4 linked regions of the Homo sapiens genome follow. The protein of the gene in region 1 purifies or fractionates together with the protein of each later gene. This does not show direct contact. Each region holds a gene or a part of one and is shown in the gene's direction. Other genes may lie near its edges. The genes, in order: BATF3, ZBTB10, RTL6 and ARK2N.

Region 1 (6,856 bases):
GAGTGATGCGTTTTTATAAAGGGTTGTCTTTTGTGAAGTGAATCACCAGAGGATTTGGTCACTGAGCTATAAACCTCTTGCACCTCCTACCCCCTCCCCAAAGATGTAATCCAGGGTAATTGTGGTATTAATCGGAAATTGCCAAATCATATAATTTCTCTTCCCAGTTCAAGGAAAATAATACAAATAAAAAGAAAATAAAAGGCTGAAGAAAAGGAGACATTTGAAATGCTTCTTCTTGTTTATCTTTTCTTTACTTTCATTTTTCTTTCTCCTTCTGACTAAAGAGAATAAAACAAACGAGAAGATATTACAGAAAAGCAAGGAAAAGTCTGTTATTAGAGCAAACCACTTGATCAGAGAAGTGCTGGCATTCTGGTGAGGCCAGTGAGCTTAGTGCCATACAAATATATTTATATCACTTATACATATGAAATGTTTTAAGATGCTAACATAATAAAAACCATTTTTCAACAAGTACAGGTAAAAGAAATTATAATGCCACCATTATAAGAGAAAGGCTACCATCAGGGTACGTTTTCTTCCAATCTTTTCTCATATGCATACATTCGTACATACTGTTCATGTCATATATGTACTTTTTGTATCCTGATTTTTCTCACTCTACTTCAGATCAAATAAACATTCCAAGTGGCAAATTTGTCTGCATGTTTGTAATTTTTTTTTTAAGAGACAGGGTATCACTCTGTTGCTCAGACTGGAACTCAGTGGTGCAATCATGGCTCACTGCAGCCTTGCACTCCTAGGCTCAAATGATCCTCCCACTTCAGCCTCTAGAGTAGCTGGGACTACAGGTGAGAGCCACTGCATCCAGCCTGCATGCTTGTAATTTTAAAGATGCATAACATTCTATCCTGTGGCAATAACATATTCTGTTTAGCCATTCAACTATAATCGGACATTTATGTTGCTTACATTTTTCACTCTTAAAATGTTATTATGAACTTCTAGTGCATATAGTATTTTTCTCCCTAGTATTTTCAATGATGTTTCTAGGATGATTTTCTAGCAGTAGGAAAATTGAGTCAAAAGTGATGACTCTTTTATGGTTCTTGAAAGTGACAGTAAAACTGCTTTCCAGCAGGTTTGTGCCAATTTACAATGAAGCCAGTGAAACATGTGAGTACCAATTTCACCATACTCTCCCCAGCATTTGATATTACTTTTTATTTTGCTAACTTAAAAAGGGTTCTTATTTTAATATATATTTTCCTATACCTATTTTCCTTGATTATTTCTTCTGCTGGGAAATGCCATTTCATATCCCTTCTGCAATTTACCTTTGCGGGTTGTCTCAATATTCTTCTTCTTCTTTTTCGTGGGCTGTATATTAACCCTTTCTCATATGCACTGTATTTATCCAATCTGTTTGTTTTACATTCCTGGTTATACTGTCATCTAAAACAATTTAGCCCTTTTATATAGTTCAGATCTTATCAAGTCAATTTCTCCTATTACATGTATTCTTATAAGATCCTTTCCTTATCTTATCTCCACAACTTTATTTTATTTATTTGAGATAAGGTCTTGCTCTGTTGCCCTGGAGGCTGGAGTGCAGTGGTGCAATCATAGCTCATTGCAGCCTCAAACTCCTGAGCTTAAGTGATCCTCCTGCCTCAGCGTCCTGAGTAGCTGGGACTACAGGTGTGCACCACCACACTCAGCTAGTTGATTTCTTTTAATTTTTGGTAGAGTTGGGGGTCTCACTATGTTGCCTATGCTTCCATGACTTAAATAAGAATTTAATTCTGCTTTAGCTCTCTGATTTTCATTTCTGTATCTAGCTATTTAATCCATTCATTTTGATGTATGATCTTTACATCAAATTGATCTCTGCCCTAAATGCTACCTAGTTAACCAAGACTAAATGTATTTGAAGAAACCCTTGCGTAACACAAGACAGTAGACTATGCCTATATAAAGAGTTCGTGTGTGCTGGGACATGGTTTCAGGCTCCCTGGGGAGAGACAGGGAAGCAGCAGCCCCAAAGGACTTAAAATGTGATGTGGTTCAGTGAGAAAAGTGGGCATGACCAGAATAAAGTGTAGGAGTGCACGGGAATGTTCCCGAGGTGTTTCTACCTTGCCTTTTCTGTGCATAAAAAACACTGGGGAATGAAATCACTTCTGAAAATGATAACCCCTTGACCCAGATGTTTTCCTAGCTCGTTAGAGCCCTTTTAGTGCTTCAGGAATGAGAGCTTTCAGCTGACCTAGTGCAATACATATACTGAGCACCTGTTGAGTGTATGTAGCGTGCTATGCTAGGCACCTTGTGTGGGTACCTTGTGGGATGCAAAATAGTCCTGGGGCAACCACCAGTTAAGCTGAGTGATGAAATAACGGAGAGGAAAAGATTAATCCGGGCAGATAACCCAGCGTAGCGCTGGCTCTGCTGCGCAGCCTTGCTGCTGTGGAGTGTGGCGCTGCAACTCTAAAGGGCTGCGTCCACCCTCCGTCTTCCTCCCCGCCTCTCAGTTGGCCGAAGCTTCTGATCACACAGACAAGAATCTCCGCTCGCTTTCCCGCTGGCCTCCAGGCAGCCAAGTTCACTCAAGCTCTCTCAAAGCTTTTGCAAGAGTGGGTCTTAAATCCTGGCGGGGGGCACGTGCACTCATTTAAGACTTAAAAAGGAATCGGAAATGACTGTCCCCATGCCCACTGCTGCCCACAAACCTGAAGACCCAAGCGACCACACTTGGTAGGCACTTCTGCCCTTCTGGTCTGGTTCCCACCCGCCCATCCCGAATCGCGGTTATCTTTCCCGGTGCTCACAGCATGCAGACCACAGCCTGTGGCCGCTAGTGTTTCCTTCGCTAGGACCACGGGTAATTGTCTTGGCTTCGCATCTTTTGACTGGCAGGCAGGTGGACAGGGACTTGCCCTACCTCAACCCGGTCCCCAGCTTGGCACGAGCAGATAAATCTTGAAAAAGAAAAATGATCTGGGCCGTTTAACCGTGGCATGGCGGGTCCAGATCCCCAAACCTGTCACTAGTGACGTCCCACGTGGCAGATTCGCTCTCAGGGAAGCCCGTCACCGTTTTTGTCCGGGACATCCTCCCCATGCCCACCCTCCGCTCCGGGAATTCACCCTCGGGGCCGCCCCGCCTCGTTCCCTCCCACAGCCCGGCGGACCCGAGACGGGAAGGGCAGGCACTCCCTGCAGAGTCCCTGGGGCGCCCGTGGCTCGGGGTGCGCGGTGGGACTCGGTGAAGCCGGCGTCTTCACCCCAGAGCCGCGGCTTCGGGGCCGCTGGAGGAGCGAGAGTGGCGCCCGGATGACTGATCGCCGCGGAGAAAGTCCCCCGGGACTGTGACCCCCGCGCCGGGGGGCGGACGCAGGGCGTGGCTGAGGCGCAGGAAGATGCCGCGATGGGACCGGGAAAAAACACCGACCCCAAAACACCCACTGTGTTTCTCAACCTGAGTTCCCCGGCAGCCGCCGAAGGACCCCAAAGGCTGCATGGCGCCCCCCTGGTCCCCACCCCCCCGGGCGTCGCCTCGCGTGGGTGGGCTTCGCGTTCCCTCCGGGGTTTCAGAGCCACCACGTGACTTCCACGAAGCGCGGGGCGCCGGCGGAAAGCCGCGGCAGGGGTGGGATTTGGGACCCCGAGGTGCGGAGAGAGGGCGGGCAGAGGAGGAAACGAGGCGGGGGTGGGAGAAGGAGGGCGGGGCAGACGTGGGACGGGAAGGACGGCTGCCGGGACTGGCGCGCGGGGACACTGGGCCGACGCGTGGAGTAGCGGGGAGAGCGGGAAGCCTGAGGGGGCGGGGCCGGCGCGAGGCCGTGGGTGCGGCACGAGGATGCCGGCGGCGGGACAGCGCCCGTAGGCAGCCCCACGGGCAGGGCGCGCGGGCGGGGCGGGGCGGGCCGGGCCAGAGGAGCGCCCGGCATGTCGCAAGGGCTCCCGGCCGCCGGCAGCGTCCTGCAGAGGAGCGTCGCGGCGCCCGGGAACCAGCCGCAGCCGCAGCCGCAGCAGCAGGTAGAGGGCGAGAGGCTCAGGGAGGGCCGTGGGGTGCGGGGACCGGCGCGCCGCGGGGGGCGAGGAGGTGGGTGCTGGAGTTCCGTGGTGGTGACTGCGGAGGTGCAGAGGTGGCGGGTGCGGCCGGAGACAAGCAGAGGTAGGGGCGTAGGGATGTTGGGGAATGGGGGCGATCCAGGGACCCTGTCGTGCGCACAGTGTCCGCGGCTCCTGGAATGGCTCCTGAGCCAGCTCCTGCGCCCTCTGGGGGAAGAAGCCCGAGGGCGCCGACGCCTGGCTGGGCCGGGCATGGCCGGTGCTCCCCGGCACGTGGGCTCCGCACTGCCCTGAGGGCCGCCCCATCCTGGCGCAGCCAGCGACTGCCACCCCACCACCCGCGCCTGTAGCCCCTCCAGGATTCCCCCGGGTGGGGGGGGTGCTGCCGCGGGAATGGAGAACGCCGGACTAGTCAGCCTGGGCGGAGGGAACCCACAAAGGGCCGACTCCGCCCCCAGCTGGTGGAAACCCTTTGCCCCTTCCCAGTTCGCTGTCCCCTAGCAACGTTTACAGCGGCGCAGTCAGGAAGGAGACCAGGTTGGCCACAGGGACGGCCGTCTGGAAACTTTGCCTGGGTCTTGGCCACCTGCCTTACGACGAAGACTGGGTCTTTTCATCCTTACTCCCCACCTTCCCAATTCAGCGCCCGGCCCATGTCATCAGGTGTCGCTGGAGTGTCACAGAGATCTGAGTTTGGGCCTGGGCTTTGCCACACACAGGCTGAGCAGCCTTGAGCAATTTGTTTAACCTCTCGGACCGTCCATTTCCCCATCTGTAAAATGAATATAGTAACATCAACCTCTCAGGATTTTTGAGACTGAATCAGATATGGTTAATAACATAATACTATCTCTAACTTTCGCTCACCTCTTTCTGTCTTGATTAAATGTTTCTGCTGGGTTGGCAGGTGTGATCATGGTGATGAGTCCAGTTTAGAGTCAGCTCCCCGAGGGCAGTATGCAGGCTGCTTTCTTGTGCTAGTGACTTTTTGATTACAGAGAGCAAAGAGGCATGAGAAGCACTATGCAGAATACATTTTTTTTTAAAGTAGCAACTTCAACAAAGGCAGGTAACTTCTTGAGGGCATACTGTATGCTGGGAGCTTTAGGACAAAATCTCATTTCATCGCATCCCAATCCTAAGCATTAGGCTGTTAGCACCAAGTCTGCAGAGTTCACTGACCCTTTGTTTAGGGCTTGTATCCCCAGTGTCTAGAACAGTGTCTGGCACATGGTAGGTGCTCAGTTAATACATATTGAAAGAATGAATGAATTATGCTTACAATAAATGAGAAAACTGAAAATTTAGAGAATTTAAACCATTTACACAAGACCATGTTGACACTAAGAGACAAAACTAGGATCTGTGTGATTCTAAAGCTAAAGAGCTGTCTTCTAACCACATGTTCCCCTGTAATGTTCTGGTTTTGTTTATCAAGACTTCTTTGCCTCTCTAGAAGACTGTATTATCATACTTTGTTCCCTTAAGCTTCTATTTGCTATGTATGTTATTTATTCCTCTCCTTTTTATGCCTTTATATTCTTGCATATCTGAAACTTCTTACCTGCAGTAACTTGGGAAGATGTGTGTCTTATGTGGAATACAAGATGAGATCAAATGATAACTGAAAATATCCTTTTTTGTGTTATTAATATTTGCATTCCGTGAATATTAATAACTGAGTAGTTTTCCTTGTTTGTACCTCTTGGCTCTTAAACTCTGTAAGTGTGGTATTTTTCCCGCTTGGTGGTGTCTTCTCATGGGGTTCTAGAAAGCAAATACTGCTCTCCTTTTTCATGTTTTCTATAGCTGATTGAAGTGTTTTTACCATGGTCAGTGCATTTTTCCGCCTGCCTGTTTCATGATCACTATTGAGGGATTTGACTGAATTTGGTTAAATCTTACATATAGCTAACAGCTTTCAAGACACATAAAAAATTTGCTGACTTCTGAAACAAAATGTCAGCCAAGCATTGTTCAAATGAGTACACTGTCAGTGGGGTTTAAGATCATTTGGTGTGTTGGTAGAGTTATGTGGCTGCAATTAGTTGTAAGTGTAATCATGATTTGCATGCAGTATCAAAAGTACCTTTCATGTGTGGTGGTATAAGGACTGGCAAACAGCAAGTTCCAGATAGCAGATCTCTCCACCGCCCCCCACCCCCACCCAGCTTTCCAGTCTCAGATGGACGACATTGACACCACAGCTCTTCCAGGCACACGCCCTGTGGGCTAGAGGTTTATGAACGTTGATTTGGAGACCAACAGACCTGAGTTCCACTTCCCACTCACCCACTTAGTGGCTGTAATACCTGGAGCAAGGTCCTTAACCTCTCTGAGTTTCTTATTCCTCATCTTTTAAACGGCGGTCACACCACACACTTCACACACTCACATGGTGAGTGCTCCTGGGCAAGGGGCTGTTGTGAGCCCATTGGTATAGCAACTAGTGGTGCTGTCTACTGCAAAGCAAATGATGAAGCTCAGTGAACAACGCTGAGTGATGAGACAGGGCAGAAAAGGGTAAGGCGAGGGGCCACGACATCACACCCACCCAGTGTTTTTCCCCAGAGCCCTGAGGATGATGACAGGAAGGTCCGAAGGAGAGAAAAAAACCGAGTTGCTGCTCAGAGAAGTCGGAAGAAGCAGACCCAGAAGGCTGACAAGCTCCATGAGGTGAGACCGTGGTAGGGGCAAGCCACCTTAGAGCCACACAGCCTCTGCCTTGCACGGGAGTGGGGGTGATGACTGTTCTCTTTATCACGATTTCAGCAACACTCATATCTAATTTCTGCCAGGTCCTTCCAGCCCAGTGT
Region 2 (7,027 bases), on another chromosome or scaffold:
TTTCTCTGCTGAGAACAGACTCTAGGAAGGCAACAGTGGAAGTAGGGAGACAAGTTTTTGGTGGCTACTGAAGACAGTCCAGGGGCTAGAGCTCATGATTGATTGGATCAGGGTGGCAATAGTTGTGGAAGATTCTGGATATATATTCCTATTGCCAAAAGGTTCCTGGTCCAAGGAATTACATTAAAGATGGAATTAAATCCAGTGGATATAATTCCTGTCCTTGCTAATCTGAAGATCCTTAGGCACATGTATTATTCTATTTTGATTCTATCTTCTGCACGTTATTTTATTTAAGGATGGAGTTAGAAAGAAATTTCAGGGAACCCTGAGAGCATTCAGTTACCTTGCCCTAATATGTCTGAAACAAGGATCTAGTAATAGAACTTTACATTTTTAATTATCCTATATATATTCTTTATTCTTAGTCTATTTTTCTGTACCAATTAATCTTAAAATTATGTGCCTGTCCTGGATTCGTAATAAGGAGAATATCCCATTTGATAGCTGGGCTTTAGGGTGATAAAATCTTAAGTGATAGAGTAGTTAGAAAAAGCAACTATTAGGAGTTCTGGTTTGAATATACCCATCCTTTAAAAGGGTAATTTCTTGTGGCGTCTGCACAATTAAATGATATTCATGTTTTTTTCTCCCGCCCGCCACCTTTTTTTTTTTTTTTTTTTTTTTTTGAGACATGATCCCACTGTGTCGCCCTGGCTGGAGTGCAGTGGCGCAATCTTGAATCACTGCAACTCCCGGGCTCAAATGATCTTCCCCAGTAGCTGGGACTGCAGGCACACACCACCATGCCCAGCTAATTTTTAAAATTTTTTTGTAGAGATGGAGATGGAGTTTCTCCATGTTGCCCAGGCTGGTTGCAAACTCCTGGGCTCAAGTGATCCTTCTGCCTCAGCCTCGCAAAGTGCTGGGATTATATGCATGAGCCACTGTGCCTGGCCCATGATTAATTTTTTTAACTGAATTTCTTCTACTATAGTTGAATGGTATTTTGTTTAATTGTGATAATAAAGTAGGAAGACATCTCAATTTTAGACTAAAATACAGTTTTATTTAACTCATACTATGAAATTCTATCATAATGCCTGTAGGATATAAATATAATTTCTGTTTTCTGACTCTGATGAGAGACAGATCTTTATTACCATTATTAATTCAGAATTTTTACTTGTACTAGGTACTTCACATGATTTCAAGTATGGTTTGATGCCTGGTCCTTCAAATGATTTCAAGTATGGATTGATACCAGGTACTTCAAATGATTTCAAGTATGGATTGATACCAGGTGCTTCAAATGATTTCAAGTATGGATTATTGCCAGAATCTTGGCCAAAACAAGAAACCTGGGAAAATGGCAAGTATTAGTCAACTAAACAAATACAGAATTAATTAAATAATTGTTAACAATTAAAAGCTTTCATGTTCTGCATTTTTTAAAAACCAAGTAGCAGTAGCTCCACATAATTGCTGTTCTCAGAGATAGAGATAAGAAGTTTTGATAGCAAGTTTTCTGTTTAATGTGTAATAAGCACTTTCTCTTTTTTTAATTCTCATAGGTGAATCATCTCTAATCATGAACAAGTTAAAATGCCCTCATTGTAGCTATGTAGCCAAATACAGACGAACACTAAAAAGGCACTTGCTCATTCACACAGGAGTGAGATCATTTAGCTGTGATATTTGTGGAAAACTGTTTACTCGAAGAGAACATGTAAAAAGACATTCCCTGGTAAGTAACTTTAAATACAGCTGATCTTTGAGATAAACTATATTTATGTCAGTGAAGTTTAAAGGGATTTAAACAGTTAATTGTGAATTTAAGGAAGATTGTCTCCTAAATTGCTTTAAACAGTTTGACTTTATGAACTGATAGTGAGCTTTTTACAGAGAAACTGGTGTATTCACTCACTATTAAATGTGTGGTTTAATTTGAGTGGTTCAAATGCATTCTATTATATATAATATCCTTATATTGGATTTTTTCCCCCTCCAATTAGGTGCATAAAAAGGATAAAAAATACAAATGTATGGTGTGTAAGAAGATCTTCATGTTAGCAGCCAGTGTTGGAATAAGACATGGATCTCGACGTTATGGTGTTTGTGTAGACTGTGCAGATAAATCACAGCCAGGAGGGCAAGAAGGTGTAGATCAGGGACAGGATACAGAATTCCCTCGGGATGAAGAATACGAGGAGAATGAAGTAGGAGAAGCTGATGAAGAGCTAGTTGATGATGGAGAAGATCAGAATGATCCCTCTCGATGGGATGAATCAGGAGAAGTTTGTATGTCTCTAGATGATTAACTGACCTACTATACTCCTCAAGGATGCTGCATTTGGACCTAATATGAATCGACAATTTGGATTGTTGAACTTGAAGGCTTGCAAAATATGGTACATGCTGGATAGTAGTTATGTTGCTGTGAAAACTGTAGGGTCAAAGCCTTATAGCAAAAAAAATTTTTTTTTATATTTGCACAGGACTATACAGCAAACAACCATGTGGTTGGATTACATGGAGTCCCCACATACTCAGTCAGTTATCAAAGTAAAATATTTTTTATTTATAGGATATACAGTAACTATTTGGGTCCTATGAAAATAGTCCTTAAAGAGCTTACATTCATGTGCTACTTTAACATGAATGGAGAAAATCCGTTTATGGAAGTACAGTGACAATTGACCCAATCACTCTGTCCATCAAACCACTCAGGCTAGTTTGTACTAGTAGAGTTTTGTTTCTATTTTTATTTTTATTAATTTTATTTTTTTTAATACAGATTTTCAGTGAGGGGCTTTTTCAACCCCATTGGTTCTATTTTCTTGTATTTTTCCATTTAATTTGCTTCATAACTTAAACCAAGTCTCTTCTAGTCTTAGGTATTATTTCTCGATTTTGTGCTGATGGGCATGTTTATAAGAACTGGAGAGGTAATTTATTGGAATGAACTAACTGACTTCCTCCATTCCCCTCTTCCTTTTTGACATGAATTTTACTACTTCACAAATGAAGAATGATGTTATGAAGTTACCGTGGCGAAGTTGACAAATACCACTAAAATGATTATGATTTAGAAGTAACTTTCTTCTGCTGCTCTAATCTGATAAATGGTTACTATATGATATTTTCTGACATGGTATTTGGTTTTGGGTATCTGTTACTTTGGCACTATTCTTGTTTGCCTCTTTATTTTTGCCAGTGTACTATACCTCAGTCCTATTTGAAAGACCTAATTGAAAGAAAAATCATAGAAATAAGTAAAATGATTTGTTTTATAATTTATCCACCATGTCCAGTTTGGTTAGCTTGTTATGCAATATAAGTGAAATATCAGGTTTTTACCCGTGTCCCTTTTATCATGAAAATTAACACAAAATGTGCATTCTCTTTTGTTTCATACTTAGCGGGATATTGATTGTTTTGAAATTATGATCAATACTTAATTTATTTTTTTCTGTCCTTGAAGTCACTACACCTTGATACAGTCTTTCTAGTAGTCACCATGATTCAACAGTCTCAAAAATCTTACAAATAAAATTCTGAGAAGCTTTATTATTCTATAAATTCTTCAGGGTACAAAGGGTGACATATTGAGGTGAAATTGTCAGATTTACTTAGCCTGGTGACATGAATTAGCTGATTGTGGAACTCTCAGCAGCATTTCACGTATTGTTAACATGTATGGCATTTATTAGCATATTGTATATTATATAAGATTGAGGGATGTCATATTTTCAGCTTTCTTTTAAATAAAAATTGAGTATATTTTCCTATTTTATATCAGGTAACTAAATTATGCTAGTTATGTGGAAAAAATTGCAAAGATGCTTTGACAGATATAATCCCTTTGGTGCTCCATCTGATCAAAGTTGAAAAGTTGATGTTTTTTAAGAGACAAGCTTTATCATTGTCTCTGATTTCAGTAGAATAATGGTTTATTGTTAGACAATGATGTTTCTGCTTGGATAAATCAAAGATAAATTACAGTTACATGGTTAGATGCATCTTTTGTCATCTATATTGTAGTTTCTACATAACTGTAAACCTGACAGATAAGAATAGTTTCGGTTTGATTTTTGTTTAAAACAGATGAGTACTTCTTAATGTTCTAGACAAATGAGTAAAATGTATTTCTGGTAGAAATTAGTTGGGCAAAGATACTATGAATGAAAAAGTATTTTAAACGTAAAATGTTCTTTGTGAATATGTAAGTATAGTATAAAGATTTCTTTCATCCCATTTATCCCCTTCCTTTAAATAAACTAGTTTACAATTGGTAGATCTGTCTATATATAAATATATATTAAAGAACAAAGATATATATCTAAAAATCACCTAAATCTGCTTTATTAGACTACAGTTCACTTATTGCATAGAAACTGGACTTGGCTTTACATTCTTAATGTACTTTTACTTTTCCTCAAGATATGAACTTACTCTCTTGAAGCTGAATTTTCTTTTACTACTTAAATCATTTATGTATATCTGGTAAATTATGACCAAATTTTTGTTAGATTGCATACAGTAAATTGAAATACACACTTGGTACACTACGGGATTGTTGTGCTTTTGTTTGGTTTTAGTTGGAAATAAGGTTTGATGTAGATGGCTTGTTACTGTTAATTTAAAATATTCTATAATTGTCCATTACTTTATGTTGTGTTGTGACAGATTTGGCTATATTTTTAGTCAATTGAAATATGATACTTTAAAAGTTTGTTTTTAGGTAATCCAAAGGAAAAGTGTTTATACTCTTGAATATATTAGCCTCAGCCTATATAAAAATTTCTTTGAAGTAAACATTTTACCGGAAACAGAATTGACAGATTTTTCTACTTGCTGACTGCCTAACTTATTTTGTTTCATGATCTCGAGGGACTGCCTTTTCCCATCTAGATCTTTTAAAAAAATAGTTTTAGTACTAAGGTATACTACTGGACATTTCTATTTTTTTAAGTGTATTCTTTTTCTGACTTACAGTAAAATTTCAGGAAGTTGATAGATACTAAGAACTTATGATTGGTCTCAGAGGTAACAATGAAATACTCATAATTTTGTCTGTGGAACTCTGGCAGAATTATGTTACACATTTGGCGAAGTTGTCTCTTGTAATTTATATTTTAAATGAAAAAGTATTTTAGAGCTTTTAATGAAGGGGAAGAGTATAAACTTTCTTTCATATTCACTCTGTAGTTACAGACCGTCTCATAAATCAAGATTGTGCATTATTAGAGTTCTCAGAGACAGATACTTCCATATGGACCCCTGTTCATTTTTCTTATTTACTAGATATTTTGCTAAATTTAGCACACTAGCAATTAAGAGTTTAAAAAAGAAGAAACGTTATAGGAAAGGGAAACTGAACAGTAATGAGTAGCTTTGAAATTGGGGAAAACACACTAGCTGGGTTAGGTACAGCTATCCTAATGGAGAAGAGTGAGCTAAATGCGTTAATTCATGTAAAGTGCTTAGAACACTGGTACATAATAGGTGCATAACACATCTTAAAGTTGTTTAATAATAGATAAGAACCAAGAGGAAAAAGAAATAAGAAAAGATGGGGGAAAGGAAGGAGAAAATAGGAAATGAAAGGATTAGGACTTGGGCATTTATATTAATACAAAATGGTGTAAACGGCCTGAATATCACTGTAGTAGTATCATACGGGGGAAAGTGTGATGGAAAATAGGTTTAAAAATCTTAATTTTTAAAACTTTAGTAAGCTTTATTTATATTTTTTAGGATTTTCTGAACATAGCATGAAGGGTTTAGATTCATTTTTCTGAAAAACGATTAAAAAAACTACCAATTTTTTTTTTGAGTGCCCACACTTGCCGTTGTGCTGTATACATGATTTTACCTTAATCCTCTATAAGGTAGGTGCTAATTGTCTCCATTTTATAGATGAGGAAAGGCTCAGAGAAATTCAGAAACTTGGCTAATTTAACACAGCTGTGACAGAGCTCGAATTTGACCACGTCTGATTCTGAAGCCCATACTCTTTCAGGGAGGCTCTATTGCTGCCTCATTAAACAACTCTTGTAGAATTTCAGCTCTTAATGGAGTCTATGGATTATATTTTTCCTATAAGACAGCTGTGTTTAGAATTTTGAGTGTCTTTCCTCCCCCCAATAAATTTCCTTACTACTCTTTCTTCATAAAGCAGTTGTTTTGTCACTTTGACTATATTAAGACACATCAGTGTAGCACATGCTCTTAACTGGCTGTGGCATTTTAATTTTATAAAAGAATGGTTTTTATCTGAAGAACTAGATAGAAACCCCAGTTTTTGTGCCGTTCAGTCACCCAGATCCTTAAACTTAACTATGGTACATAATATCCACACTTAGAACTAACAGGTGTTTAGTCACTTTAGGACTTAAAATGGAAAGTTTTTTTTTTTTTCCTGCTGTATCTCTGCTTTCAACTGAAGTTAAAGAATTCTAGATAGTTTAAAATGTGTTAGGGATAAGCACACTTCAAAAGATGTTTTCTAGCCCTAAATTTTATGACATTGGGTACTTAAATTTGGAGTACACTAGCTATTGAGAACAATATTTTGGGTTGAGGAGAGATGGTTGAGGCCATTATTTAGTGGGAGCATTGGCATTTTGAACACTGTAAACAAAAGAACACTTCCGCCTGCTGTTTGTAAAAGCTCTTTGGGAAGATCTTTTACGAAGACCAACTTTTTAAAATGTAAATTACCTACCTAATATAAGTGTCCTAAGACATGTATGTAAACTTCCGGAACTGTTTTGTCTGTGTATTTAGAAAATACACAAGAATCTTTATTCAAACCTAAAAATATAAACTTGTGAGCACTAAACTGCTTCTGGCTTTGTGAATTTTATTGACTGACATTTAATTCAGATTTCTTTGCAAGTGTACTAATTTAGACTAATTGGGGTAAGGGGAACACCTTAATGAACTTTGACTTATGTATAATTCAGATATCTTTGTACTTAAGGCTTACAAGTTTGAATTATGGAATACTATAAGGGTTTTT
Region 3 (7,311 bases), on another chromosome or scaffold:
CCAGGGGACAAGAGATTAAGATGACTATATCTGTGTTCTCCTTTGACCCAGGGCCACACTTTCACATAAACTGTCACACCCCACCCCCATGAAATGACTGAATCCAATTTTTCAGACTTTTTTTCTGACACAGGGGTGACTCCTCTCTCCTCCATCCCCTGGATTCAAATAGGAAGCCTGGCTGTGTTCCCAGCCTTGGGTCCCTATTATGTCTCAGGTCCAGAGCCCGGCAGGCCCACGTCAATACTCAGAAGTTTGTGTTTCTGGACCATTGTGAAGTTTATCTTGTTTATCGATTGGAGCCCACTTATATCCTTTCAATATTTTCTTTGCATATTTTATTGTTCTGTGTTCACAGCCCAGACAGGCACCTCAGGGCATGAATCATAGCTTCATCTGGATGAGAAGCCAAATATTCTTCTCCTGTTTTTACTTTTAAAAGTCCATTAATTTTTATTTTGCTCTATTTTATGGGCTGCCATCTAATTTCCCCTTGGAAGTAAAGTGAAATACAGATAAATTATTTATTTCTTTAAATGTTTTATCATTTCTGAAATTGGGGTGCATCTTATATTCAATGCACCTGGGAATTTAAGATTCATGGTGTCAACCACACTTAGAATTGCAGCAGACACTTCACTAATGTGCCCAGTATCCAGGGGCCTAGACAGACAGAGAGACAGAGAGACAGATGGAGTGACTCCCACGAGTGGATGGGATTCCTCTGTGTGTTTAGAAGAACCTGGAGGGGTAGAAGGCTGCAGGCTCATTTCTGCTTTTGAAGTCATTGACCTCAGTCAAGGTTAACACAGCTCCTGCCCCCATCTGATTTAGAAGGTCTCATGGAAGAAGTTTAAGGACACACAGTCTTCTTTATTTCCCTCTTGCTTCATGCTCTAGAAGTTTTCACCTGGTCACAAAGGGTGCACACTTTGGCACACTGGGGTACAAGTATCCTTTCCAAGTTCTGACACTGTAGTTGTGGGACCAGCCCAAACTGGGCCTACCCTGTTGGTAACAAAATGTCAAGCTGCCTTTTAGGTAGAACAGAGCCCAAAACTGCAAGTCATGTAGCCTGGGCATGTGCCGTAGAAAAAACTTTGACCTCCAACAACACCCAGAACCAATGATTCGTCCTCTTAGAACCAAGAAGACTGGGACATGACCAGAAGTTGAAAACCAGAACTCATTCACAAGCAAAGGGGTCCATCAGCCTGGAAGGTCTGGGGCTAAAATCTACTTTAATATACATTACCACATATGGTCAAATTTGAAGCCCTCCAATCAGACCCTGGCAAGCCAGCATTGATAAATACTTTCTCTTGCCACCTGATCCCTTAAAACTTGCCCCATACCTCAAATCAGGGAGACGGATTTGAGCCCACCTCCTCTCTCCTTGCTGGTCAGTTTTGCAATAAAGCTTTTCTTTTCTCAAAAGCTGGTGCCATATGTATCGGCTTCCGTGTGCATCAGGCAGCAAGACCACTTGCTCAGTAACAACATCCTTATGCCCTAATTCCCTTGAGTGAAAACTGCAGGTCTGAGTGAATCCAGCTCTGTCCCAGGCCTGCCTAAAGAGTGCAGATGGTTCCCAGCTTCAGCCTCCTTGAATACTGTGTCCTCAAAAGACTGGCATACTGGGTATTGTTAACTGAAGAATGACGAGGTTCATAAACCTGGAAAGGAGAGTTTTATTTATCATAAAAGGTTGCACCCTGCAGAGTGGCCATTTGAATAGGCTGGGAAGTGTAGCCTCTGGCCAGAAGCCATAAACAGGCACTTCAAGGGTTGGAAGAGTAAGACAGGAATTTATGTTGATCAGGGTGGCCAAATATACATATTCAATAAGCTACAGGAGGAGTTATAAATATTTATGAGAAGAGAAATATGCACATGTGCAACTGAGCTTCATCCCCCTTCATGGGTAGCACCTACAAAAAATGGCAGTGTTAGCGTGATCTGAAGGTGGAGTTTTCAGCCCTCTAATGTCAAAAGGTGTATCAGAGGACACAAAAGCTTTCACTGCACATCCTCCACAGGCTGGCCAGAACCACTCCAGGGTTGGTGGTCTCTTACTAGGAAAGAATGCTGGTCAGTTGTTGTGTGCCACAAAAAGGGAGGGGCAGTGTCAGATGGTTGGTTGGTATCAATGTTGAAGTCTTTCAAAGAGGCTTGTTTCTGTTTAACTCTTAAGGAAAAAAGCCTAATGGTGGTTATCGGTTATGGAGCGGGGGCAGATAATGAAGTGTGTCCAACCTCCCATCCCATCATGGCCAGGAACTCGGCTTCCCAGGTTTCTCTGGGGTCCCCTGGCCAAGAGGGGGTCTGTTCAGTTGGTTGGGGGGGGGGGGCTTAAATTTTTATTTTTATTTCTCAGTATCTTTTCTCTCCAGCCATGCCAGCTTGAAACTGACCATGCAGAAGGATCACCTAGGTCAAGCTGGGAATCCAGACCCGGAATCAAACAGTTCTTACCCTTTGGCCAGTGTATTAGTCTGTTTTCACGCTGCTGATAAAGACATACCTGAGACTGGGCAATTTACAAAAGAAAGAGGTTTATTGGACTTACAGTTCTGTGTGGTGGGGAGGCTCACAATGACGGCAGAAGGTGAAAGGCACGGAGGAGCAAGTCAGGTCTTACATGGATGGCGGCAGGCAAAGAGAGAACTTGTGCAGGGAAACTTCCCTTTTTTTTTTTTTTAATTTTTTTTTGAGATGGACTTTTGCTCTGTTGCCCAGGCTGGAGTACAGTGGTGCAATGTCTGCTCACTGCAAGCTCCGCCTCCTGGGTTCACGCCATTCTCCTGGCTCAGCCTCCCAAGTAGCTGGGACTACAGGCGCCCACCACCACGCCTGGCTAATTTTTTGTATTTTTAGTAGAGACGGGGTTTCACCATGTTAGCCAGGATGGTCTCGATCTCCTGACCTCGTGATCCACCCGCCTTGGCCTCCCAAAGTGCTGGGAGTACAGACGTGAGCCATTGTGCCCGGCCGGAAACTTCCCTTTTTAAAACCATCAGATCTCTTGAGACTCACTCACTATCACAAGAAGAGTGCAGAAAAGACCTGCCCACATAATTCGATCACCTTCCACCAGGTTCCTCCCACGATGTGGGAATTGTGGGAGTTACGACTCAAGATGAGATTTGGGTGGAGACACAGCCAAACCATATCAGCCAGGTATCTTCACTCCTTGGTATTTACTCTGGGGAACCCAGCAGAGAAAAGGGTGGGGATTTATATACAAGTGTAGTTTATAAAACTTTAGCATGGTAAACAAGATAAGGATCTATCAAAAAGGGCATGGCTAAATACTTTGCGGTACAGGAGTTCCATGGACCACAGGCAATAACTGAAAATCATGCTTCTGAACTATCTTTAATAGGAAAATGCTCAAAATTCAATGTGCTGTTATGGTTACAAAATATTCATAAGGTAAAAAATATTTTGTAGAACATATCATAGAAAAATGACTGGATGGAAGTACAGAAATATTACTATCTCTACGTTACATATATATGTATTACTATTTGCTATCTTTAGGTGGAGGGAGTCTGAGTAGTATAAAGTTTTTTTTACTTCTCTTACATCAAGATTTGTTACATTAAATTTATATTCAAATCACAATAAGGGCCTGATGCAGTGGCTCACGCCTGTAATCCCAGAACTTTGGGAGGCCAAGGCAGGCGGATGCCCTGAGGTCAGGAGTTGGAGACTGGCCAGGCCAACAAGGTGAAACCCCGTCTCTACTAAAAATACAAAAATTAGCCGGGCATGGTAGCACGCGCCTGTAATCCCAGTTACTTGGGTGGCTGAGGCAGAAGAATCGCTTGAACCCGGGAGGCGGAGGTTGCAGTGACTCAGGATCGCGCCACTGCACTCCAGCCTAGGCGACAGAGCGAGACTCCGTCTCAAAAAAAAAAAAAAATAAGAAGAACAGTAAATCATCAAAAAAATAAACCCAATGACAACCACAGAAAGAGCCTTGCAAGCCCTCTTGGGAGGAATGACTGGGAGAACACCAGGTACCCGCCCTGATGAAGACGCCGCAGCAACTACAGTCTTCCCCGATTGGCAGCAGCCCGAGTTGGGGGGTGGGGGGGGGTGGGACTTTGTGCATCACTTCCGGGGGCGGGGCAGCGGTCGTCTCCGCACGCGCGGGAGCGGTCGGTATCCATGGCAACCAGCGGGGCCAGCCTAAGGCCCGCCCGCCACCGCCACCGCGCCGGCCCCGCCCGCACAAAGGCCGCGCGGTGACCCGCCCTCTGCCGCGACCCCGGCCCCGCCCCTGCCCCGGCCCCGGCCTGGCCCGGTCCCTGCACCTGCCGGAGGCCGCCCGCCGCCATCGCCAGCGCCGTCGCTTGGCTGCGCTGACCGGGAAGCAGTTCTCGGCGGTCCGCGCGGTGATTCATCGGCCTGGCCGCGTCCCCCGCGCGGGCCATCTTGGTCACGGCCGGCGGCGGACAGAGCCGCGGAGGAACCGCGAGACCCCAGGTACGCGTGCCCCCGGCCCCCTGCCCGGCCGGGCCCCGCCACTGTGGTGGCCCCCAGGCCCGCGGCCGCCAAGGAGCAGCCCCCTTTGTTCTCCCCCGGGCGGGCGCGGGGCGGGCGCCGCGGGGCTTTGTGCAGCCTCGCCACCCACGCGCGGGCCCTCCACGCCGCCCCTCACCCTCCTGCCCGCTAGTCGCAACTGAAACCTTGAAAACATCTTTTCTTAATCCTCCAGGGCCCAGAGCAGGTCCAGCCACCCGTCTGGCTCCGTAGTCCGCGAAGTCTGCAGTAAAGGAGCCGCGTGGGACCGGGGCCGAAGTCCCTAGGGCCTGGCACCGCGTGCCCCTCTCTCGGGCCCTCGGCTTGGGGGTCTCGCAGCGCCCTGCCGTCGTGCACCCCACACTGCCCCCATTTCTACAGGGGCCCACCTGGTCACCACACCCTCTTGGTCCACCCGCGGATCTCAGCGTGTGGCTGACCTCTGGCCAGCATGGTGCAGCCGCAGACGTCCAAAGCTGAAAGCCCAGCCTTGGCAGCGTCTCCGAATGCCCAGATGGATGACGTTATTGACACCCTGACCTCCCTGCGCCTCACCAACTCGGCGCTGAGGCGGGAGGCTTCCACCCTGCGGGCGGAGAAGGCCAATCTCACCAACATGCTGGAGAGCGTGATGGCAGAGCTGACCTTGTTACGCACCAGGGCGCGGATCCCGGGGGCTCTGCAGATCACCCCGCCCATCTCCTCAATTACTTCAAACGGGACTCGACCCATGACCACACCTCCAACCTCTCTGCCCGAGCCCTTTTCCGGGGACCCAGGCCGGTTGGCGGGGTTCCTGATGCAGATGGACAGATTCATGATCTTCCAGGCCTCCCGCTTCCCGGGTGAGGCCGAGCGTGTGGCCTTCCTTGTGTCTCGACTGACTGGGGAGGCGGAGAAGTGGGCTATCCCCCACATGCAACCTGACAGCCCCTTGCGCAACAACTATCAGGGGTTCCTGGCAGAGTTGCGGAGAACCTACAAGTCTCCGCTCCGGCATGCGCGGCGCGCCCAAATCAGGAAGACTTCTGCCTCTAATAGGGCTGTGCGAGAGAGGCAGATGCTCTGCCGCCAGCTGGCCTCTGCGGGCACGGGGCCTTGCCCAGTGCATCCAGCTTCCAACGGGACTAGTCCAGCGCCAGCCCTGCCTGCCCGAGCACGGAATCTTTAAGAATCCGCCAGCACTTGGTAGCGTCTGCAGCCACCCAGGTAGCATACGCTCTTTGCTGTGTAGAAGAAATGCCCATACGACAGCTTTGCCCCTGTTTGAAGACCTCCCTTCTTGCCTCTCCAGACGTGTTCCCCGAGGAGATCTTCCTTCCGTCCTTCCTGGCGCCCTGGTTGCCCACCTTGCCGTGCTTCCTCTTACGTGCTAGCTTTGTACCTATCGCTCACTGCATGCTCGCCTCCCTCTTGCTGGCATCCCGGCCTGTTTCAATGACTACCGCTCTGCTACTTAGGCACAGGGACTCCGCCGCACGCTGACGGACCACGAGGGCTGACCCCTTCCAGCCTGACTTGGTTCATGGAGGCTCCTACTCTGCCCTCTCCAAGCTCCCCTGGCGGCTCCCCACCTGGTTGCCCAGTTCCTATTGATGAGCTCTGGACAGAAAGATGCCCGTTTGGCCAGGCTGGTGGCTTGATGGGTGTACCTGGAGAGGGGGTCTGGCTTCCTGCCCAAGATGCCTCCCAGCCCTGCCAGGGCCCGGTGCAGCGGGCAGGGCCTCATCTGTGCTGTAGTGGTCGAGTGGTTGCTGCAAGGAGCGTAGTTCTGCCATGTCTGGGGGCCAGGTTCCACTCTGCACATGAATATGCAGTCTGGGAGGCCCCACTGCTCTCACTGGGAAGGACCAATGTTGCACCTCTGTTAATGCCTGACTTCAGCTGCTGGTGTTCTGATGGAGCCAGAGGCTTGGGGAATCTGGAACTTGCCTGCTAAATAAGGTCGTGGTGGACTCTCAGCCATTGGGCAGGTCTATCAGGCTGCAGGTTCCTACACACCCACGCCTGAGGGTCATAGCAGGCTAAGGGTGGATACCAGCGACTCCCTTTGCTGCCCAGGATCTCCATGGGCAGTGCCACAGCGGCTGATGCTCAGTCACTCCTGCTTCTACCCCCTGTCACTGATGGCGAGCCTTGCCCAGCTTGAGACCTGTTCCCATCTCTATTCAGGTGCCATGTGGCCTTCACTGCAGCCCTGCAGCCACCCACGCACCATCTGTGGGTCTCCAAAGGCACCTTGTAGCATGTACTCCCCGTGCCTGGGCAATCAGATGGGCTGCCTTTGTCCAAGGGAAAACAGACTCCCTTCGGGAAACATCCTTAAGCACTTAAGGCCGGGGGGGGTGTCTGCCTCTGGCAACCCAGCCAGGGTCTTGGTGGCATTTGTAAAAGCAAAGAGCTGTGGACTGCCGTGGTCCTAGTGTGGTGACAATGCAGCACTGGCATGCATGTCCTCCTTCTGAAGGACCTCATCCTTCCTCACAGGGGGATGACCAAGAAATCATTTTGTGGCTGAGTTTGGCCACGCCCTTTGGACTGTGCTGTTCCGCCATATTTCAATGCCAAATGAACCACATTGACATGACCTGGACCATAGGGCTTCCTATCCTGGGCTCAGCTGCCCCTGTCTGAAGGGTCTTGGCTTGATTGCAGAAGGACAACCTCCGCACCCACCTAAAGACATGTATATGTCTTGGGATCCCAGAGATTGGGTCCTTGGGCCTGGCTTCTTAAGAGTTTTGATGATGCTGGGAAAAGTGACTGCGATTCTGAAGAACC
Region 4 (7,027 bases), on another chromosome or scaffold:
TGTAGCTCATTATGATATGTCTGACACCAACTCTGACCCAGAAGTGGTAAATGTGGACAATTTATTGGCGGCTGCAGTAGTTCAAGAGCACAGTAATTCTGTAGGCGGCCAGGACACAGGAGCTACCTGGAGGACCAGCGGGCTTCTAGAGGAGCTGAATGCAGAGGCAGGTTGGTCTTCCCCATCCCCCTTCTCTAACGGTGTAATATGCATGTGTCCTGGAGCTGTTTTCCTTGTAGTGGACCCTGATGAGGAGAACAGGTCATACCAGAGACATCTGGCATTGAATGATTGGTTGTGACTATCCAGGCTGCCATTTATACCTGAAACAATTTGGATAGCTTGTCATTCATCTTTCCTACTCAGAAGGAAGTAGAAATAAGAGCATTTAAGACATTAATTGTAGGTATTGGTAGGTTTCAGTAGGCATATTTCTTGGATTAAAAATGCCCAATATTTGCAAAAATGACCCAGATATGCTCATATTCTTTGGCCAGTTCTTTCTCTCACTTTAATTCTGGGTAGTGACCTTGCAGCTTGGATAGGGAATCGTTGAATCTCTCCCTGTGGGGCTGGCTGTTCATACACAGCGCTGCCGCTGTTTCTTGTGCTTCTTGCTGTGGAGTGACCCTGTTAATTCCTCGTCAGTAAGTTCTCATTTGTCTTTTCTAACTCCTTTCTTTTAGTTTCTGTCTCTGTTAGCTCAGGAAAAAAAATCTCTGTCCCTGTCTTACATTTTTTTAGTTTTGTGATTATTCTTTAAGGTGGTATTTATTCACTAAAAAATCCACTGCTGTTACCTTTGAAAAACTTTCACAATACCTCCAAGTCTTCTTCAATATTTTCTTCAAAAGTTTCTTTCAGCATTCTAATTTAAACCTTGTTTTGTTGTTGTTGTGAAAATACTAGCACTGAACATTTAAGAAGAGAAGGGGATTGAGAGACTGCTTATGCAGTGTATAATTTCTTCAGTGTTGCTGAAAGATTATAGTTTTCTAGTTAATTTATAAATGCATTGGTTTTATGAGTTAATCTAATAGTTTAATCACTACCTAAAGTTATTTTTATGAAAAATGAGTTTTACAAAAAAATGAGTTATAGTTTAGAACTTTTTATATTGAGACAGAACTCCATTGATTGTTGTTGTCTTAAATTATTCCTTTCATAATCTTTGATTGGAATTACAGAAAAATCACTTGTTTGTTGACCTGATTGATTTACTGTAGCTAATTTTGGAACTGAACCTGAATTTAGTTTTGATTTTTTTTGACTGGTAACTGCTGCCTGTTTGTCCTTGGACCAGTTGTTTCTCCTCTGGACTTCAGTTTTTATATGTATAAATCCTTGTTTTGCCCAACAAGTGTCTTTTAAGGATTTATTAATATGTATTAATACAAATACTTTGAAAAGAAGTAATAATGCTTCTGGGCACAGTGGCTCACGTCTGTAAGCCCAGCACTTTGGGAGGCCGACGTGGGAGGATCACTTGAGGTCAGGAGTTCAAGACCAGCCTGATCAGCATGGTGAAACCCCGTCTCTATTAACAATACAAAAATTAGCTGGGCGTGATGGGTGTGGTGGTGGGCGTGGTGGTGGGCGCCTGTAATCTCAGCTGTGGAATTGCTTGAACCTGGGAGGCAGAGGTTGCAGTGAGCTAAGATTGTGCCACTGCACTCCAGCCTGGGTGACAAAACTAGACTGTATCCCCCCAAAAAAGAAAAAAGAAGTAATAATGCTTTATATCAGTGGAAAGTAGTTTGGCCACATTTTGTACAATATGTGTTTCTAAGTTATTTATTTATTTATTTATTTATTTGAGATGGAGTTTCGCTCTTGTTGCCCAAGCCAGAGTGCAATGGCGCGATCTCAGCTCACTGCAACCTCCGCCTCCTGGGTTCAAGCGATTCTCCTGCCTCAGGCTCCTGAGTAGCTGGGATTACAGGCGCGCACCACCACGCCTGGCTAATTTTTTGTAGAAATGGGGTTTTACCATGTTAGCCAGGCTGCTCTGGAACTCCTGACCTCAGATGATCCGCCTGCCTTGGCCTCCCAAAGTGCTGGGATTACAGGCGTGAACCACTGCACCCAGCCTTGTAATTTGTATATTAGATGGTTTATCTTTGTTTTTCATCCTTTGGCAATTAAGTCATCCATTCCACTTCAGTTTTATTTCTCTGTTTTCTGAGTCTTGCCGTTAAATATAGACCATTTTATGGTAAAGTTTTGGGGTAAAAAATGAATGATTACCAACGTTTTGCTCTTCATATGCAGAATTCTTAATATTAGATTGAACCGTATGGAATTGTTAATATTTGACTTTTTGACCTACAAAAAATCAGCCATTTCTTATGACTTGACCGAATAATGCAAAGTTTGCGGTTTTAAAATATCATTAAAGTTTAGCTTTTGGGATGGCATTCACATTTTCAGATTCAAGTAATTGTTAGCCTATTTAAAAATCACTCTTAAGAAACTACAACCATTCTTTTTAAGAAATAAAACGTGGTAAAAGTATGTGAGGAGGAAAACAACTGTGGCTTCAGATGTTTTCCTTCCCTTTGCCCTTCCCATGCCAAAGCTATCCTAAATTGGATATTTAATGTGTGGTATTCCTGTGTATTTCTTTATATATTTGTACTACATTTGTTATATATCTAAATAAGCATGTTTTTAAAACTAATTGGTATCACATTGAAGGTAATCATTTGAAATGTGCTTTTTTAGTTAAACATTTTATGAGTTTTGTTGTTGTTATGTGTGGCTCTAGTTCATTCATTTTCCACTGCTATTTAGTATTCCACTATATGAATATATCACAATTTACCCATTCTCTTGTTGGACATTTAGGGTGCTATTTTAAGTGATACTGCTCTTAACATTTCTTTATGTGTTTTTTGGTATATGTATATGATAATTTCTCTAGGATATAATTAATATATAGAGAGAGCATTTGTGCATATTGGACTATAAATTTTGTGTAGGTTTCTGTATATCATAGGATGCAGTCACCACTGCTCAGCAGATCCCCATGACATTTTGTTATGAAGCTTATTGGCTCTTTCAAAGGCATTTTTTTTTCTTAAATCTGACAATACTGGTATGTGGGTAATAAATAAAAATAATACTGTAGTCTTGATGTGATTATCATAGTGGAACTCATCTTGTGAAGATATCTGAATGTGCTTACAGTGTCTCAATAAAATATTAATAGAATTTATGCTTAGGAGCCAGTTAATAGTTTTGAGGCTTGGACTATTAGTCAGATGGTCATTCTTATGGTGTGAGTGTAAGTTAAAATTTTAATGGTTAATCTGGGTCCTGTCTTTCCCTTTCACAACAAAATAGCAAGCCTAGTTATTGAGCAGACTATTCAGGGGTTCACTTTAATCAACAGCAGCATCTCAACCCAGGTCCACAGCCCCATCCCATTTAGGATCACATAGGTACGCACTAAAGATAGAGTAGGTTGCCTTTTTCCAAGCAATTAGATGATTATCTTGCATCCAAAATATATATTTAGTTTTAGTTTTAACCTAGGCAAAAGACTTGAACCACATGCAGGGATTAAAAAGTAAGTCGAAATTAGAGAAGCTACTGATCAACAAAAGACCTGAATTTTCCATTTCAATTCTTGCCATGTGTTTGCTTTTTTTAAGTTGATGCTGGAATTGAACACTGTAGTGGGTGATTTTGAACCAGTGGCCACTTAGAAACTGCATGTCCTCAGGTAAATTATATAAAGCCTCAGTTTTCCCTATCTACAAAACTGGGGCACAACCTTTATAGTATCTACTCCAAAAGGTTATTGTTACCACTAAGTGAAATACAGTGTGTTTACTACGGAGGACAGCACATAGTAGGCCCTCAGAAATGCTAACCAGCATTATGTTAATATGCTGAAGTAGACTGAGTAAGGAAGTGATTAGTGGCTCAGTCACTGGATTTCTAATTACTCTCTTGCACTGCAACGAGTTGCTCTTGCTACAAGTACTTCTTAAATTTTGCCAGAGCGTAGAAATTACCCAGTGTGTTTATAAATATTCACACTCCTAGGTTTCTCCTGATGATTCTGTCAATAAATCTGAAATGGTTTCTGGGAATCTCTTTTTAATAATAGCCTCAGGTAACTCTTGTATCCAGCATGTTTAGGAAACTGTATTAATATATCTGAAAATGGCTTCATTTTTGTTGCTAGTAAGGGCTCACTGCAAACAAATGTAGTTGGGGCAAGAAGAAGCAGAAGTCTTGGTGAGGAAGGCTTATAGCTGTGGTAAACTGAACTTATTTAGGATTTTTTTCCCTGGGAAGTTAAAACTTTAAATACCTTATCTTTTCCATCAGCCTTCTTGTCAAGAAGGTAGGTTCTGAGCATTTTCCCCATCCTTACAATAGGGATGGTAATCTTGATTTGTCCCTAACATGGTGGCAGTACAGAGAAATGAATCCTGGGTTTCCTGTTCCTAGTGTAGGGTTTTTAATAATTAGACCAGAATGGCCATGTTTCAGAATCAGTATAGTGAAGGAGATGAAGTATGGTCATGTTCTTCATGTTTATCTGCATCAAATTGATGGTAAGAGTTTAGATTTTTTTTTTTTTTTTTTTTTAAGAGGGAGTCTCCAGTCACCCAGGCTGGAGTACAATGGCACATTCTGGGCTCACTGCAACCTCTGCCTCCCGGGTTCAAGTAATTTTCGTGCCTCAGCCTCACAAGTAGCTGGGATTACAGGTGTGTGCCACTGCGCCTGGCTAATTTTTGTATTTTTAGTAGAGACAGGGTTTACCATGTTGGCCAGACTGGTCTCGAATTCCTGACCTCCAGTGATCCGCCTGTCTTGGCCTCCCGAAGTGCTAAGATTACAGGCATGAGCCACCACACCCAGCCAGATTTTAGATTTTTGAGCTCTTCCTTCACTCTTTTTTGTTGTTGTTGTTGGAGATGGATTCCAGCTCTGTCGCTCAGGCTGGATGCGGTGGCAGTCTCCGCTCATTGCAGCATCTGCCTCCTCGTTCAAGTGATTCTCCTGCCTCAGCCTATCCAGTAGCTGGGATTACAGGTACCCGTCACCACGCCCCGTTAATTTTTTTATATTTTTAGTAGAGATGGGGTTTCACCATGATGGCCAGGCTGGTCTTGCCCTCCTGATCTCAAGTAATCTGCCCACTTCTGCATCTCAAAGTGCTGGAATTTCAGGCGTGAGCTACCATGTCCAGCCCTCTTCCTTCACTTTTTAAGGTTGTTTAACGTGCTGTTTAAGGAACTAAAAGTAGGCTGGGTGCTGTGGCTCACGCCTATAATCCTGGCATTTTGGGAGTCCGAGGTGGGCAGATCACGAGGTCAGGAGTTCGAGACCAGCCTGTCCAATATGGTGAAACCCCATCTATACTAAAAAAAATACAAAAATTAGCTGGGCACGGTGGCGTGGGCTCCTGTAGTCGCAGCTACTTGGGAGGCTGAGGCAGGAGAATTGCTTGATCCCGGCAGGTGGAGGTTGCAGTGAGCCGAGATTGCACCACCTCTCTCCAGCCTGGGTGACAGAGTGAGACTCTGTCTCAATAAAAAAAAAAAAAAAGAAAGAAAAAAAGAACTAAAAGTAGTAATTTGCTGTTTTTAAAGCTAAATGAGTAGTGACTTATTTTTTTATTTTTTTTATGCCTAGCATGCGACTGTCATACAGTATGTAGTATTACTTTCTCTTCAGTGTGTTGCAAAGCTCAGGCCTAGTTCTTACCCAGTGGATTTACAGTTTAAAAAGTAGCTGGATTATTTCCTTTAAAGACAGAAAGAAACTGTTTTCCATGATAATTTAGTTACTACTTTTTCTGTGCTTCTTTTTCTTACCCTATTTTGATAACTACCTTTTCTTGGTAACTTTTTCTTACCCTTTCTTGTTGAAAAGGTCTGTAGTGGGAGGACAAAATTTAGAATTTTCTCATATAGTGAAAGAAGTTATCTTTCCAAAGACCTACACAGGCAGAGACCTACACAGAGACAGCCAGCTGTCACAATAGCTAAATATAAGTGCTCTGCTTTATTTTCAGTTTAATATATGGTAATTGCGGTATTTACATTTTTCTCTACAGGGCTTGTTCTTGTCTTAGAACTGGAAAAGATTACTACCACTGACAGTATTTGAAGAACCTCATAGCATCTTTGGCTCACTTTTCTGTATGCTTTAGGCACTGTTCTGCCATTGGAATCCTGTGAAGTCCTCCATGGGGGGTGAGGCGGGGTGGGGAGGGGCAGAGCAGAAAAGGCCCAAAGGCCAGAGAATGTCAGGTTCTATACTGGAGCTCCCAAAGGAATGTGTGGGATGCTGAAGAGGGTTACAGTGACAGAAAAGGACTAATGGTCCTGGCTCTGAAATAGAAGAAGGAAGAGGCAGAGGCATCCCAGAATGCCTTTGGTGTCTCTTGTAGAGCACGGCATCTCATTGCCTTGGTGTGGGTCCTAGCTGATTTGTTTTCTGTGTGGCACAATTTATCTAAGGCTCTGACAGGAAATTTGGCAAATGTCTCACACTATTAGTCTAGGAGTTGTTAACATTCACGAGGCAGTCTGTATTTAGCACCCCCATCACTTTCTCATGCCTCTTATCTTGCACTAGTATATTGACCAAGCATTACAGATAAGAGCAGACCCTAGGCTAGGCGCGGAGGCTCACACCTGTAATCCCAGCACTTTGGGAGGCCGAGGCGGGTAGATTACCTGAGGTCAGGAGTTCGAGACCAGCCTTACCAACATGGCCAAACCCCGTCTCTACTAAAATACAAAATTAGCCTGGCGTGGTGGTGCATGCCTGTAATCCCACCTACTCAGGAGGCTGAGGTGGGAGAATCGCTTGAACCCGGGAGGTGGAGGTTGCAGTGAGCTGAGATCACATCTTTGCACTCCAGCCTGAGCAACAAGAGCAAAACTCCATTTCAAAAAAAAAAAAAAAAATAGCAGACCCCAATTTAAAGTGACCAGTTTTAGCATATCATCTGGGTTTTGTAACCATGTTAAATACCAGCAGGTTTGGATTGCAA

The links.
Region 2: the proteins of BATF3 (region 1) and ZBTB10 purify together in Homo sapiens (affinity purification with mass spectrometry; 2 studies listed by BioGRID and IntAct, with this or other methods). This does not show direct contact.
Region 3: the proteins of BATF3 (region 1) and RTL6 purify together in Homo sapiens (affinity purification with mass spectrometry; 2 studies listed by BioGRID and IntAct, with this or other methods). This does not show direct contact.
Region 4: the proteins of BATF3 (region 1) and ARK2N purify together in Homo sapiens (affinity purification with mass spectrometry; 2 studies listed by BioGRID and IntAct, with this or other methods). This does not show direct contact.

The regions. Positions count from the first base shown.
Region 1 is NC_000001.11:212,696,821-212,703,676, reverse strand, and holds the start of BATF3 (basic leucine zipper transcriptional factor ATF-like 3), read left to right. Parts: upstream 1-3,836; 5' UTR 3,837-3,914; coding exon 3,915-4,004; intron 4,005-6,611; coding exon 6,612-6,716; intron 6,717-6,856. UniProt on the Homo sapiens protein: AP-1 family transcription factor that controls the differentiation of CD8(+) thymic conventional dendritic cells in the immune system.
Region 2 is NC_000008.11:80,517,208-80,524,234, forward strand, and holds part of ZBTB10 (zinc finger and BTB domain-containing protein 10), read left to right. Parts: intron 1-1,195; coding exon 1,196-1,372; intron 1,373-1,574; coding exon 1,575-1,747; intron 1,748-2,015; coding exon 2,016-2,321; 3' UTR 2,322-7,027. UniProt on the Homo sapiens protein: May be involved in transcriptional regulation.
Region 3 is NC_000022.11:44,495,227-44,502,537, reverse strand, and holds the start of RTL6 (retrotransposon Gag-like protein 6), read left to right. Parts: upstream 1-4,304; 5' UTR 4,305-4,494; intron 4,495-4,726; 5' UTR 4,727-4,981; coding exon 4,982-5,701; 3' UTR 5,702-7,311.
Region 4 is NC_000018.10:46,240,018-46,247,044, forward strand, and holds part of ARK2N (protein ARK2N), read left to right. Parts: coding exon 1-170; intron 171-7,027. UniProt on the Homo sapiens protein: AMPK substrate important for exercise capacity and skeletal muscle function.